4 linked regions of the Homo sapiens genome follow. The protein of the gene in region 4 interacts with the protein of the main gene of each other region in a pairwise test. Each region holds a gene or a part of one and is shown on either strand. Other genes may lie near its edges.

Region 1 (3,500 bases), on a different chromosome or scaffold from region 4:
TAAAACAAAACAAAAAGAAACAGAAGACAACTGTAACACTGGTGATAAAAGAAACTTTTTTTTTACAAGTAAAATAAAGTTATCAATTTAAATCTTGGTACACTTTATAAAAACAAGAGGTAATGTTGTAATAAAACAGCAGTAGCCTCAGCTGGCAACATACTGTTTGTTAACCCTGTGCAATAAAATACTTTGTTCATACTACACTTATTCAAACATGACTAACAGTTACTACAGACATTTCAGGAATCTTCACGGGACTCCTATAGACTTACTGTTAAAAATGAGAGACATTTACAATCATAATGTGCCATGAAAACTTGAAAACGTTACTTCTAGTAGGAGATAATGTTCATATTATTTGAATTTGTTTTAGGTACTGAACAGCTGAGTTACAAGGACTAAAAGTGAAAAGCATTCTAAAAGCCCATGAACACTGTTGTTCACACCCTTCTTCAGAACACACTAAACTTGTCTGACACATTTCTCTTCATACATAGCAAGCAACAGCACCCAATAAAAGCCTGAGAAGAAATGCTGCTGTGTAAATACTGCAACTATTCCTGAAAAAAGAATTATGGGATATATACTCCAAAGCTGCCCATTCCCATAATTTGTATTGCATAGGTCACATAATCACACACATATATATACACGTGTGTATATATATGCACATGCAAGAATATATTAAGACGACAATGAAGTCTAGTCACAGAGCAATTTACAGGCTCAATATATTTTTTTACACTTTGCTTGAAAGAAAATTTCAATATTTTACAGTCTTTCAGTAGGCATTATATACACTGCACTTTATGAAATCTAAAAGGTATTGAAATAAATTTTTCCAACATTTTGGTAACAAAACAAACAACGTTTCTCCAAATACTTGTGCTATCTACATGATGTTTGCTCTGATAATCACTAATCACAAAAAACTGACTCAATGGAATAATTAGAAAAATTGTCTAACACCATGCATGGGTTTCAATCATTTTTAATATCCTATCCTAGAAACATTCTACAAATCTTAAGATTTAAAAAATTAAGTCTCTGTTCTGATTTTTAAAAGATACCTTTTTATGACAATATCCATAACATTGACAGGTACATGTTAAGGCTAGTATCATCCCCTTTTTTGAATTTTTTTGACTTTTTTTTTTTTTTAAGAAAGATAGTAAAAGCCAGACTCCTTTAGGGCTTTGAACTGTACCTACAGAAAATCAGAGTGCAGTGAACATAATGTTCAGTCCTACAGTCAGGATGCAGTTGCTCCTTCCCATTCCACAAGATACTGCACCTTTCCATCAAGTGTCACCCGACGTGCCAAAACTCGGTATTTTTCGCCACATGCTATTCTACCTGCAGCACCAAAATAACTGGTAATGGAGTTCTTTAGATGATTGAGTTGTAACTCCTGATCTGCTAAGTTATTCAGAATCTCTGTGTTGAGTTCATCAAACTGATAATCTTCTTTGCCTTCATCATCTTTTACAATTTCTGAGTTCTGAGTCTGGAGTGCTCTTCTTGGAAGACGACCTCTTCTTCTCCGCAAATGTGGTATTGCAGCAGGCCAAGATCTTCCTGTACGCGTTCTTTTTCTGGAGTCAGATAATCTATGTAACAGAGAAGGCCAGAATTGTCTACTGAGCTTTTTTAGCATCCTATGCCCATACAATATGTTCTCTTTTCTGGATTACTCTACTATACCATATATCCTTGATGATATAAAAATGAGCCAAACCCAAACAATAAATGCTATATAAATGGACTATCACTTGGGCTCATTACTTTAGATTTTGTCACGTTCTTGGAGCTGAACTTTGTGGAGCTTTTCTTCCTTAACTACTAGTAAGTTTAGGGTAATTTTTTTACTTAGGAGGCCAACAAGGAAAATTCTTACGAAGAGGCCCTACTCATAAATCAGGTATTGCCAATAATCACATCATTTAAAAGAGCTCATTCATTTGTTCATTAGAACAAATAATTAATGAGCACAAACTACATCTATGACACTGCTCCATGTCCTTAAAGAGTGGAACTAGAATAGAGGTTCTCTTATTACCAGTTCTAGGCCTAGTGAAGTAATACACCAGAATCAGAATAAGCACAAACTAGCAGTCAGAGTATCCTGGGTCTATCCCTAACTCTATTACTTGGCCAAATTCAAATCTCAATCTCTATGTTCATGAACTTAATGAGTGAAGGGGTTAGACTGGATAATGTGTGAGGTCCTTTTCAGCACAGAAATTCAATTATTTTATGATTTTATAATAAAAGGAGAATATAGTACAACAACTAAATTGAAAGACCTACAGTCATACTGTATAAGTTAACAACCCAGCTCTGTTATACTTGCTAAACATGCAATGTTGGGCTTGTTACTTAAAATCCCCTAAGTCTCACTTTCCTCATCTGTAAAATGAGAACAACAGGACTTACACAACTCAAAAAATTGTTCTCTTTTGTTTGTTTGAGACAAGGTCTCACTCTGTTGCCCAGGCTGGAGTGCAGTGGCACAATCATGGCTCACAGGAGCCCTGACCTCCTGGGCTCAAGTAATCCTCCGCCTCAGCTTCCTGATTATCTAGGACTACAGACACCAATACCACGCCCAGATAATTTTTTTCTTTTGTAGGGATGGGGTCTCATCTCAAACTCTTGCCTCAAGCAATCTTCCCACCTTGGCCTCCCAAAGTGCTGGGATTATAGGCATAAGCCACCACACCCAGCCAAAAAATTGTTTTAAGAATTAAATAAGACAATATTTGTAAAAAGCTTAGCAGAGTATCTAGTAAGAGGCCCCAAAAAAGTCGATTATTCAGAATTCATTAATAAATGGGTTACACTTTAAGCATTTAATGTAGAATTTTGCATAATTTATAACAGCAGTTTTCGAATTATGAACAAAATTTAAACAGAATGAAGTATAAAACTTGAAAATAGTAGCTCTGACCCCAAATAGATTAACCTTTTCATACCTGACATGATGTGCTTTAGAGAAAAGTTGTCCTGGCCAGGCAAAGTGGCTCACGCCTGTAATCCCGGCACTTTGGGAGGCCGAGGCAGGTGGATCACTTGAGATTAGGAGTTCAAGACCTGCCTGGCCAACATGGTGAAACCCCATCTCTATTAAAAATACAAAAAGTTAGCTGGGCATGGTGGCGCACGCCTGTAAATCCCAGCTACATGAGAGGCTGAGGTGCCAGAATTGCTTGAATCCAGGAGGCGGAGGTTGCAGTGAGTCGATATCATGCCACTGTACTCCAGCCTGGGTGACAGAGCGAGACTCCATCTCAAAAAAAAATAAACAATAAACAAAAACGTTGTCCTTCTGAAGGGCTGGATTAAATAAGATATCAGAGGGGAGTCTGCTATTGATGAAAATCTTAAGTTTAAAATCATTTTATGGACAAAAGGATTTAGGTGTCTGATTTTTTTTTTTTTTTTTAATCAAATCTTGGCCAGCTGTAGTGGCTCAGGCGTGTAATCCCAGCACTTGA
Region 2 (4,297 bases), on a different chromosome or scaffold from region 4:
AAACAAGATTTTAGCAAAGAAAAACTTGCTGTCTCAACAGAACTGTTGATCCTCTATGTGTCATTCATCTATTAGTTAAAATTCCCAGGGCTAAAAAGACAAGAAGAGTCTGGGGTCCCGACACTTTTAAAAGGTGTCCCTGCTACATAATAAATCAATACTCCAATTCAATCACTGGCATTCAACCATTTAAACTGAGTTTGCTGCTATGTAATTATTGCAGCCTGTTGAGTTAGGGCTCATTTCATTAAAGAGCATAATTGCTCAAATGTGACTTGATTTAAGATTTATTTAAAACTCTTCCATCACCAAAAAATACTCATATACCATGAACCACTGTAACTTCTTAATCTCTCTGTAAATGTTCAGAGGCAGATTCCTAAGTATGAAAGGTGAGAGTTGTTATAGTGCCTAGAGCTCTAAACCCTCTCCTAAACCCCAAGATCCCTTTCTGGTTTCCCCTCCCCCAACCTTAGCCTCCTCCAGGCCTCCACTGGCCCAAGATCCCTGCAAGCCGGCTTTGCGGTGCTCCATGTAAAAGGAAAACTTCACCTACTAGGAGGTCTGCCCCGGCCTTTGCTTCAACAGAGAGGGAAATGGCACCTCCAGGACCTCAGAACCGGAAGCTTCTTTCTGGAAGGGAAAGAGGTTGGCATATGATAGTGGGAGTGACCTTTGGCAAGTTCGTAAACGAGTCAAGACATCACACAGTAAGTGACATGCTGCAGGGTCACAGATTTCTCTAGGTGTCGGATTAACAGGAAGTTAAATCAAACAAGGAGTGTGAGGAGGGAGGCGGGGCAGTGGGAGAATGCCCCCCAGCTGCACAGGGCGGGGTAACATTCGCAGTTGTTCTTCCTGGGAGTGCCAGACAGACGTCCTGGGTCTCTGGGGACACCCAGTTCTGAAGAGGTATCTAATGTGAGATATGAGGCCCTACCAGGCCCATTTCTCCAAATTCCTGAAAATGCCATCCAGATGGCCCCTACCCTGAAGGTTCCAGCACGCAGAGTGAATAGCTGAGCAGTGACGTGGGAGGCTCCTCAGGTCCCTCAGAGTTTCATTTCCTTGGTGCTTCCCAGTCTCTCCTAACCTCTGACCTCTCAGAGTAATTGCCAAATTGCCTTCTGTTTGTACAAGGTCCCAGCACTTCCCGGCGTGGTTCCCGACCCTGTGAGTGGGTGGTGCTGTCTTCAGGCCACAGATAAGAAACTAGGATTCAGAGGGGCTATGGGACCTGCGAGTAGGCGGCCAGTACGTGGTCCGGGGTGTAGAACCCCGGCTGTGCAACTTCTGCAGCCCCGCGCCCGCCGCAGTGCCGGAGCCAGGCCCCACCTTCCTCCCGTGTCCAGCACCCCCCAACAAAAGCATCCCAACTGAACAGCCAACACTTGTGGCTCCTTCCTACAAGTGCTGGGTCTCCACAGCTTTCCTCGCAAATCGAAGCTAACAGGAGCCCCGATTTGCAGACCAGGAAATGGAGACCCCGAACGAAACAACTTGGTCGGGGTCACCCTCGCCAGCCGGGGCACTCTAGAGCTAAAACTCGCGACTTATCATTCGGAGAGGGGTCCCTGAAGCACTGCGGGCGCCCCACTGGAAGCGCAGACCCCGGCCTGCCTCCCCTAATCAGGGCGCAGCGGGAGAGCCGGCCGGGCCGGGGCGGGCACCAGGCCGGGTGCCAGCGCGCTTGGCCGGCCCGGAGGTGTCCGCTTCCGCCCGGGGCTGGCACCGCCGGCCCATTCATCGTGGCCGCGGGCGGGGCGGGCCGGGCCCCGGGCGCCCTCGTCCCCCCGCCGGGAGCCCTCGAGCCAGGCTCCGCGCAGCCCAGCCGGGGAAACGGTGGCCCCGGCCCCGCCGCCAGGGGGAGCAGGGAGCCGCCTCCCGCACTCCGGGAAGTTGCCACCGCGGCCGCCCGGCGTCCGTGCCATGGACAGACCCGGTCCCTGCGCCGCGAGCCCTGCGGCCCCGGCCCGCCCCGTCGGGGGCCGTCCCAGCCCCGCGAAGCGCCAGCGGGCCGCGGCCCGGGACCGGCGCGCTCGGCCCGTGGGCCCCCATTCAATCCCGCCCTCCTCCCCTCGGCCGGCCTCCGCCGCCTTCCGCCCGCACCCCACCCCTCCGGCCCGGACTCCAGCCCGGCAACGTCATCCGGCGGCTTCCCGAAACTTAACCCCTTCCTCCGCCAGCTGTGCGCCGCCCCGCCCCGCCCCGCCGCCAACTTTCTTCGCCCAACTTCGGAGCGCGCTGGCCGGCCCGACGGCCCTGCCGGGAGGGAGGGAGGCAGGGAGCGGTCGCCACGTCGCGCCCGTCTGCCGCCGCAGCTCCCCGGACGGCGAGGGCCGCGGGGTCCACACCACGGGGCGCGCCCTGCCTACGCCCCGGTACGGCGCTTGCCCGGCACCCCCGCCCCGAGTCCGACCCCGACCCCGATGGTGCACGGCCGCGGCGGCAGGCGGCGGGCGGCGGGCGGGCCGGGGGAGGGGCCGCCGAGGAGACGTGTCACTCGCGGCGCAGCGCGGCCGGCCCCGGCCCCCCGACGGCCCGGCCCGCGCGCGGCCGCTGCAGGGCCCGGCCAAGTTTCTTACCTGCAGCCAGAGACGCGAGAGGGAAAGCGAGAGGGCAGGAGCCGCCGCCTTCGCAGCCGCCGCGGAGCCGGGAGAGAGGAGCCGGCCAAGCCTCCGCCAAGAAACCGCCCCCGAGCAGCTGTAGACGCTGCGACCCTGACGCCGCCCGCCCCGTCTGCCGTCCGCTCCGGCCGCTCGCTGGCTGCGTGCGCGCGTGTGGAGTCGTGGCACTTTCTGCCTCAGAGCTGGCGAACGGCCCCCTCCGCCGGGATCGCCGCCTCCTGCCTTCCCCACCCGGGCCAGCCATTCATCGAGCCGCCTCTTCCCATTGGTCCGCACCCCGCCACTCTGCCGGTCGCTGGCCAGTCAGGACGCGGGTGGCCGAGCCGCGGCGGCGGCCATTGGGCAGAGAGGAGGGTCTCCACCTCGGCCAATGGGAGAGGGGAGGAGCTGCGGGGAGGTGAAGGGGGCAGGGCTGGGGAGAGGCGGGGCCGAGCGGCGCGGCGCTCGGCCGTGCGCGGGGCGGGGCGGAGCAGGAACGCCCCGCCCACCGAGGGGGGGGTCTCCGGCCAGCTCCGCCCACTCTGGGCCCGCGGCGCTCCCAGCAGTCTCTGACTAGGATCCGGCTCTGCCTAGGCGGGAAGCAGAAGGTTCGGGTCCCGGCGACCCCGGGCCTGCGCCTCTGGATACCGCTGGGCTGACATGGCGGTGGCTGAACAGGGTTGCGCAACCGCGAACAGCCAAGGAAGCTGCTTTATTTAAACCCAACTAACTTCCCCCGAAGCAGCGCCCCCTCGGGCCGCCGGGTATGAGGACAAGCTCTGCTGGGGGTCAGCCCAGGGAGAGCAAGTTCTTATCATCAAAGAGATTGCAATCAGCACCAGAAGGAATTTCCTTCAGTAAATGGAGGAATTGGGGTGGAAGAGCCAGAAGGTGCACGAGGAATTGAAGCGGATGTCATCGCCCTCGTTGTTAGGGAGGGTACAACTGAGGCACGGTCTATTTAAGATACTCAACCAAATCACAGCCGGCAGAGCAATAATTACAATCCACTCTGTGGCGTTTTATTCCATGCGTTGGGGAAGGTGAGAGGTTCTAACCTAAGAAAACTCATCCGTGTCCCACAAAACGGAGCAACTGGTACTTCCTCATTCCCTGACTTTCTCCCCAATATCAGCCAACACTCAGTCTTCATAATTAGTCAAGTCTTTAAATTAAAATAATTTTAGGCTTGATTTTTAACCATTATGTCAGCGTCTCTTAAAGCCAACCCTTTGAACTTGAGCCAAAGCCAGCTTCTTTGGAATTTTGGATTCTGAGCGACCAAAGGCTGCCTAGACTGCCCCCCATCACTTCCCTAGCTCCTGTTGCTGCAGAATCCCGTGCCTAACATCTATTTCTTGGACAATTTTCAATCTTCCCTGTCCCCATTTGTCACTAGTACTGTACTAGCTGTTGTTAGAAAGATGTGAAAAATACAAGCCTTCATGGGGAATAAAGAGCGATTGGGTTGAAATTAAACTGTTCATTCCTATTTTTAATCTTGGCGGTTCCTTAGCCCATTAATGATTAATCAGCAGGAATTAACCTGGATTAACTCTGGAACACTCAGTCATTTTCCAGCAGTGAGACCCGGCTTCAAATGAAAGTCAAGAATCCCAGCTTCTGGCTGGCAATTGCTACCAATGAGTCCTACTTGACCAGGGCTGGGCCATCTAACCTTTCTGAACATG
Region 3 (4,012 bases), on a different chromosome or scaffold from region 4:
AATATGCGTTTAATTATGTGGTGGGATGTGTGTAGGTGTATGATGAGAGAGGCAACCAACATGGCTATTTGGGGTGCAAGGATGTGGGAACAGGCAAGTAATTTTCACATTGGACTTTCATCCTAGGGAGCTGGGTTCTAGTCACAGCTCTGAGCTGTGTGACCTTGGGTAGGTCTCATCTCCCCGGGGTTTTGTTTCACCAGTTGAACAGTATGAGGATGAGTCACAGCTAACATTTGTTCCATGATATTTACCCAGCACCATACAAGTGTTATTTCTGTCCTCCCAGTTAACACTGACGTGGGTAGTATTATATGCCCATTTTACAGATGAGGAAACTGAAGCCTGAAGAAGTTAAATACTTATCCCAGAACACACAGCTGGTAAGTGGCAGACCTGGAATTGGAATCTAGTTCAGTTTGATTCCCCAACCCATGCTCTTGACCACTATACTGTTTTTTCAAGTCCAGATCTGAAATCTCATTTTCTGTGTGGCTGTGTGTTTGGGACAGGGGTAACCAATTCCTGACTACTCTATATGCTGCATAGAACCTGGAGAGGATTTTTCAAAGTAAATGAATCTCGAAAGCTGGATTGCAGAGCAAACGAGTGCAGTCAATTCAGCCAGGGGCTTGCAAGAGGGAGAAAGAGAAAAAGACTGTGGAATGGAAAGTTTCCCAACCCAAGCCTTTCCCAAGGGGTAGCCATTCTCTGTTCTACAGTTTAGGGCTTGCATGTGCTTTTTCTGGAGTGGAAAAATACATAAGTTATAAGGAATTTAACAGACAGAAAGGCGCACAGAGGAATTTAAAGTGTGGGCTGGGGGGCGAGGCGGTGGGCGGGAGGCGAGCGGGCGCAGGCGGAACACCGTTTTCCAAGCTAAGCCGCCGCAAATAAAAAGGCGTAAAGGGAGAGAAGTTGGTGCTCAACGTGAGCCAGGAGCAGCGTCCCGGCTCCTCCCCTGCTCATTTTAAAAGCACTTCTTGTATTGTTTTTAAGGTGAGAAATAGGAAAGAAAACGCCGGCTTGTGCGCTCGCTGCCTGCCTCTCTGGCTGTCTGCTTTTGCAGGGCTGCTGGGAGTTTTTAAGCTCTGTGAGAATCCTGGGAGTTGGTGATGTCAGACTAGTTGGGTCATTTGAAGGTTAGCAGCCCGGGTAGGGTTCACCGAAAGTTCACTCGCATATATTAGGCAATTCAATCTTTCATTCTGTGTGACAGAAGTAGTAGGAAGTGAGCTGTTCAGAGGCAGGAGGGTCTATTCTTTGCCAAAGGGGGGACCAGAATTCCCCCATGCGAGCTGTTTGAGGACTGGGATGCCGAGAACGCGAGCGATCCGAGCAGGGTTTGTCTGGGCACCGTCGGGGTAGGATCCGGAACGCATTCGGAAGGCTTTTTGCAAGCATTTACTTGGAAGGAGAACTTGGGATCTTTCTGGGAACCCCCCGCCCCGGCTGGATTGGCCGAGCAAGCCTGGAAAATGGTAAATGATCATTTGGATCAATTACAGGCTTTTAGCTGGCTTGTCTGTCATAATTCATGATTCGGGGCTGGGAAAAAGACCAACAGCCTACGTGCCAAAAAAGGGGCAGAGTTTGATGGAGTTGGGTGGACTTTTCTATGCCATTTGCCTCCACACCTAGAGGATAAGCACTTTTGCAGACATTCAGTGCAAGGGAGATCATGTTTGACTGTATGGATGTTCTGTCAGTGAGTCCTGGGCAAATCCTGGATTTCTACACTGCGAGTCCGTCTTCCTGCATGCTCCAGGAGAAAGCTCTCAAAGCATGCTTCAGTGGATTGACCCAAACCGAATGGCAGCATCGGCACACTGCTCAATGTAGGTTTATTTTTTTCCCTTCTTCTACCAAGAAAAAAAAAATTGTCTCTCTTGCATGCAATAAAGACGTTGGAAATAAACTGCATTGGTAGCAAGACAAAGGATTTAATGATTTAATGCTGAAGGGGTGTGATATGCTGGCATGCATATTGATTCCCTTTGCTGAAAATTTCCTGTTAGATGTTTTCTTCCCAAATAACCCCTCCCGCCCCCATGCTCCTCTCCTTACCAACCTTATAGTCTCTTGAAAACAGTTTTTAAAATATGCATAAAAATGTGGGGGGTGGGGAGTAGAGGGTGACCACAAGACTTTAAAACATTCTTCAAGTAGGGCAATTTGACACATTTTGCAGTTTTTACTAAAATGTATGCAGAGTGGAATTTAACTTTGCTGTTCTTTGGATTAGCTACTAGTTGTATAGGTCCCCCCACCCCTTGTGTATTCCAACAGTCCAAAGTAATTAAAATATGACATTTTCCTTGAAAGGAATTTAGTTTAATTAAGGTGGCTGCTGCTCCCGAAGTTCATAAACCACCAGTTCAAGCTGCCGCTTCCAATGTTTTCCTTGCTAAGGAAAGGCAATATTTCTTAGCATTGACCCTGCTGCCACCTTTCCAAGTCACTTTGTTGGTCTAAGAAGTTGCTGTTTTGCTAGAAAACTACTGGCAATGAACACCCCTTGGACTGAGCCATCCATTATTTCCATATCTTGCAGTTCAGCCCGGAACGTGGACATCAGTTAAAGGAAAGGAAATATAAGTGGGGTAGCCCAATTTAAAAAAAAAATATTGACTATTTTGTTATCTGATGCTGACACAGTGCCGAGGTACGCACCTGGTCAACAGTAGCCTGGCTGCAGGCTTGAGAAATGATCAGGAGTCCCAGAAAATCCCACCTTCGGGTGGCTGTAGTGGGAGCCTGCAGGATGCTTCGCCGCCCTGACAGTGATTTAGATAAATGGCTCAGCTATCTATCAAAATGTTTTTAGTACTTTATTTGACAATTCATTGGAGCATTAGCCTGAAAATGACATTTTAAATCTTTGTTTTCAAAGAGGTCAAAGTTTAACTGGAAGAAATTGAGTTTTCCTAATAACATGGTGGCTTATCTAAAGAGAGAAGAAAAAGGGGAGAGGGGACAATGACAGGATTTAAATTGCCCTCTCTGAAACTTTTTCTTAAGAATAAAGACTTGCTTCTTGGGCCGGGAAATCAACAGGTTTGTAGCTGAAAAATCAATAACCATTTGATGCCAACAGCCTGGCTGTCTGACTTAACATTTTGTAGAGCCATAAGCAGGGCAAAAAGAATATCGTTTTCAGAAGGCGCCTTAATCTTCAGCTGCTCCCCAAATGCCTTTTCTTTTTTGGTGCCCATTTTATTTCTGGAGAACTCAAAGAAACTGGAGTGTTACAAAATAATTTTCTAATCCAAGAAGAGACTTTTCAGACCTGTCCTCTTTGTAGCAATTAAAACAGTATGAACAATTTCTGTTGGAATCCCAGGGAACTGGGGCTCTCTGAAACTTTTTCTTGTTAGAGAAAGTGGTAATGAAACATGTTTTTTAACAGAAGGAAAAAATATGCTCAGGATCCTCGCCAAAAGTTATTAGACCTAATAGAGTTTTTACATGTAGACATTCTTCCTTTTGTAATTAACCTTCCAAAGATGCCTATTAAGTTGTAAGAGTAGGGGGAAAAGCTTTGTTTGTTCTTGGACAAGTTAAACAAGGGATTTGCTTTATCTAGGGAGAGCGAGCGGTGAATGTGTCATTCGCCTAAAACTACCCGATAAGCAAGAAGTGTTGATAACAGCAAAGTTTAGCTAATCAAAGAAACTTGCATTAGACAAAGTAAATAAAGGCATTTGACAAAGGGATTTCAGAAATTCCAGTGTCTTATTTTTGTAAGCAGGGCAATTAGTTCTTATTGTGGTCAGTTTCACAAGAGTTTGAATCCCACACCCCAACTTTAGGTTAAATGAATAAAATGTAAATATTGCTTGTGCCCTTGCAGAGTTGCTTTACCCTCATAAACCACTTTATGATGGTCAGTTGTTCCAACGATTTTTTTTTTTTTTTAGCATAAATAAAACTAAAACTTTTTTTTTTTTTTTTTTTTAGAGATTCTAACAAATGTCTTGTGCCATGCAGTGTTTGGTTCAGGGTGGTACAG
Region 4 (3,500 bases):
TATTTTTAGTAGAGACGGGGTTTCACCATGTTAGCTAGGATGGTCTCGATCTCCTGACCTTGTGATCCACCTGCCTCGACCTCCCAAAATGCCGGGATTACAGGCGTGAGCCACCGCGCCTGGCCACACCCAGCTAATTTTTAAATCATTTGTAGAGAGAAGGTATCACTATATTGTTCAGGCTGGTCTTGAACTCCTGGGCTCAAGCAATCCTCCTACCTCGGCCTCCCAAAGTGCTGGGATTACAGGTGTGAGCCACCGCGCCCAGCTGAACCTCAGTCTTTAGAACCTTGGAATCCTAGATTCATAACGTGCTTAGCATGGAATTCTAAAACTGTAGAACCTGAGAATTCTAGAATCAGAACCATAGCATTCAAGAATTCCGAATGATAGAATTCAGCTAAAATAACAACAGAACTTTAGATTACACATCTTAGATCTCCCAAGTTATAGACTCTCAGAGCATGAGAATTTTGGAACCATGGGATTTGAGGGTAATAGAAACATAGGCACATCAAATTTGAGAGTCTTAGACGTCTAGAATCATATAAGCTTGAAACCATCGTAACCTAGAATCCTGGAAATTCTAGACTCCCAGAACTTTGAACAATCAAATTCTAGAATCCAGCCAGGTGTGGTGGCTCATGCATGTAATCTCAGCACTTTGGGAGGCCAAGGTAGGTGGATCACTTGAGCCTAGGAGTTTAAGACCAGCCTGGGCAACATGGTGAAACCCTGTCTCTACAAAAAAAATTAAAAATTAGCCAGGCATGGCAGCATGCATCTGTGGTTCCAGCTACTTGGGACTCTGAGGAGGGAGGATTGCTTGAGCCCAGGAGGTTGAGGCTGCAGTGAGCCATGATTGTGCCACTGCATTCCAGCCTGGGTGACAGAGCAAGAACTTGTCTCAAAAAAAGAAAAAAAAAAATTCTAGAACCTCAGAAGCCTAGATCCACATAAACTTAGAAACATCCAATTCAAGAATTTACTGGAACAATCAAATTCTAGAATCTTAGAAGCCTAGAGCTAAAGAAGCATAGAAACATCAAATTCTAGAATCTTGTATGTATAGAATCCTAGAACCTTGGAATCTGCAGATTCTGGAGGTAGAGAAGCCTAGAATTGTAGAACCCTAGAACTGTCAAATTTTAGAGTTTAGATATATAACACCCTAAAATCTTGGACATTAAAGAGTCTTAGAAGTGTTGACTCATAGATGTCTAGAGTTCTAGAAACTTGGACATCAAACTCTGAAGCCTTAGAAATACGGAATCAGGTCAGGGGCAGTAGCTCACACCTGTAATCCCAGCACTTTGGGAGGCTTAGGTGGGTGGATTGCTTGAGCCCAGGAGTTCAAGACCAGCTTGTACAACATGGAAAGACCCCATCTCTACAAAAAATACGAAAAATTAGCCAGGCATGGTAGTGCGTGCCTGTAGTTTCAGCTACTCAGGAGGCTGAGGTGGGAAGATCGCTTGAGCCTGGGAGGCAGAGGTTGCAGTGAGCCGAGATGGTGCCATTGCACACTCTAGTCTGGGTGACAGCCAGACTGTTTCTTAAAAAAAAAAAAAAAAAACAAAAAACAGAATCATAGAACCTTCATAAAATAGGTTTTTAGTAAACTCTAGAATCTTCGATGTATAGTGTCCCTAGAACCGTGGAAACACTGAACTCTACAGCAATGGTTCTCGACCAGGGGCCGTTTTGCTCCTAGGGGATGTTTGGCAAGGGTTGGAGATGGTTTTGTTTGGTACGCTGGGATAGTGCTACTGGCATCCAGTAGGTAGAAGTCAGAGATGCAGCTAAACATCCTACAATACACAGAGCAAGTGCCCTAAAACAAGGAATTATCCTGGGCACTGTGTTAGTGTCACGGGTTGAGGAACCCAGCCCTAGGGTGTTCAGAGTCTGGAGTCACAGCACATTAGAACCAATAACACACACACACACACACACACACAAGTCGGGCGCGGTGGCTCACGCCTGTAATCCCAGCACTTTTAGGAGGCCAAGGCAGGTGGATCATCTGAGGTCAGGAGCGCGAAACCAGCCTGACCAACATGGCGAAACCCCGTCTCTACTAAAAACACAAAAAAATCAGCTGGGCGTGGTAGTGGGCGCCTGTAGTCCCACGCCCAGCTAATTTTTGTATTTTTAGTAGAGACGAGGTTTTACCATGTAGGGCAGGCTGGTTTCGAACTCCTGACCTCAAATGATCTGCTCTCCCCGGCCTCCCAAAATACCGAGATTACAGGCGGGAGCCACTGCACCCAGCAGTCGTCGGGATTTTGAGTCTAGCCCTCCTACTTAATCAAGACCCCCCCGATGGTTGGGAAAACTGTGGCTGAAAGTGGGAAAATGACCAGGGCAGCAGCAGCCAGTGTTCTTACCCAGACAGCAAGAGTAGACTCTTTTGAGCCTGAGGCTTAGGGTCAAGGTTCAAGCCTTCCAGGTAACCTCTCTTCCCCTTCTCACCCGTTCCCTTGTTCCCTGTCCTACCAGACTGCAAGTTTAACTGTCACAAACGCTGCGCCACCCGCGTCCCTAATGACTGCCTGGGGGAGGCCCTTATCAATGGAGGTGAGAGGCTGGGGGGATGCTGGGGAGAAAGGGGAAGGGGCAGGACTGGGTGGAGACCCCTCTGATGCCTCCGTCCCCACAGATGTGCCGATGGAGGAGGCCACCGATTTCAGCGAGGCTGACAAGAGCGCCCTCATGGATGAGTCAGAGGACTCCGGTGTCATCCCTGGCTCCCACTCAGAGAATGCGCTCCACGCCAGTGAGGAGGAGGAAGGCGAGGGAGGCAAGGCCCAGAGGTATACACAGAACCCTCCAAGAGACCCTGGGGGAAGACCCTCCTGCACAGTGAACCTCAATTTCTTTTTCTCTACAATGGGCTGACATCACCTCATATTTATAAATTTTCCCAGTTCCTGAGGCAAACCTTTTAAAGCACTACAATTTTTTTTAAATAATTTTTTGTTTGAGACAGGGTCTCGGTCTGTCGCCCAGGCTGGTGCAGTGGTGCAGTCTTGACTCACTGCAGCCTCGACCACCTGGGCTCAAGCGATCCTGCCACCTTAGCCTCTCGAGTAGCTGGGACCACAGGCTCGTCCACCACACCCAGCTAATTTTTGTATTTCTGTAGAGACAGGGTCTACCCTATGTTGCCCAGGCTGGTCTTGAACTCCTGACTCCTGAGCTCAAGTGATCCACCCGCCTCAGCCTCCCAAAGGGTCTTGCTTTGTTGCCCACTGGAGTGCAGTGGTGTGATTGTGGCTCACTGTAACCTCAAACTCCTGGGCTCAGGTGATCCTCCTGCCTCAGCCTCCCGAGTATCTGGGACTACAGGGATGCACTGCTATCCCTGGCTAATTTTAGACGGCGTTTCGCTCTTGTTGCCCAGGCTGGAGTGCAGTGATGCAATTTCAGTTCATTGCAACCTCTGTCTCCTGGGTTCAAGCGATTCTCCTGCCTCAGCCTCCCAAGTAGCTGGGACT

Evidence for each region.
Region 1: the proteins of PRKD2 (region 4) and MTF2 interact in a two-hybrid assay, tested with the Homo sapiens proteins (one large-scale study listed by BioGRID and IntAct).
Region 2: the proteins of PRKD2 (region 4) and RRBP1 interact in a two-hybrid assay, tested with the Homo sapiens proteins (one large-scale study listed by BioGRID and IntAct).
Region 3: the proteins of PRKD2 (region 4) and RARB interact in a two-hybrid assay, tested with the Homo sapiens proteins (one large-scale study listed by BioGRID and IntAct).

The regions. Positions count from the first base shown.
Region 1 is NC_000001.11:93,134,783-93,138,282, reverse strand, and holds part of MTF2 (metal-response element-binding transcription factor 2), read right to left. Parts: intron 1,614-3,500; coding exon 1,256-1,613; 3' UTR 1-1,255. UniProt on the Homo sapiens protein: Polycomb group (PcG) protein that specifically binds histone H3 trimethylated at 'Lys-36' (H3K36me3) and recruits the PRC2 complex, thus enhancing PRC2 H3K27me3 methylation activity.
Region 2 is NC_000020.11:17,679,443-17,683,739, forward strand, and holds the start of RRBP1 (ribosome-binding protein 1), read right to left. Parts: upstream 2,801-4,297; 5' UTR 2,586-2,800; intron 634-2,585; 5' UTR 557-633; intron 1-556. UniProt on the Homo sapiens protein: Acts as a ribosome receptor and mediates interaction between the ribosome and the endoplasmic reticulum membrane.
Region 3 is NC_000003.12:25,427,051-25,431,062, forward strand, and holds the start of RARB (retinoic acid receptor beta), read left to right. Parts: upstream 1-1,212; 5' UTR 1,213-1,471; coding exon of another isoform or gene 1,472-1,481; 5' UTR 1,482-1,681; coding exon 1,682-1,838; intron 1,839-4,012. UniProt on the Homo sapiens protein: Receptor for retinoic acid. Retinoic acid receptors bind as heterodimers to their target response elements in response to their ligands, all-trans or 9-cis retinoic acid, and regulate gene expression in various biological processes.
Region 4 is NC_000019.10:46,700,115-46,703,614, reverse strand, and holds part of PRKD2 (serine/threonine-protein kinase D2), read left to right. Parts: intron 1-2,502; coding exon 2,503-2,580; intron 2,581-2,662; coding exon 2,663-2,816; intron 2,817-3,500.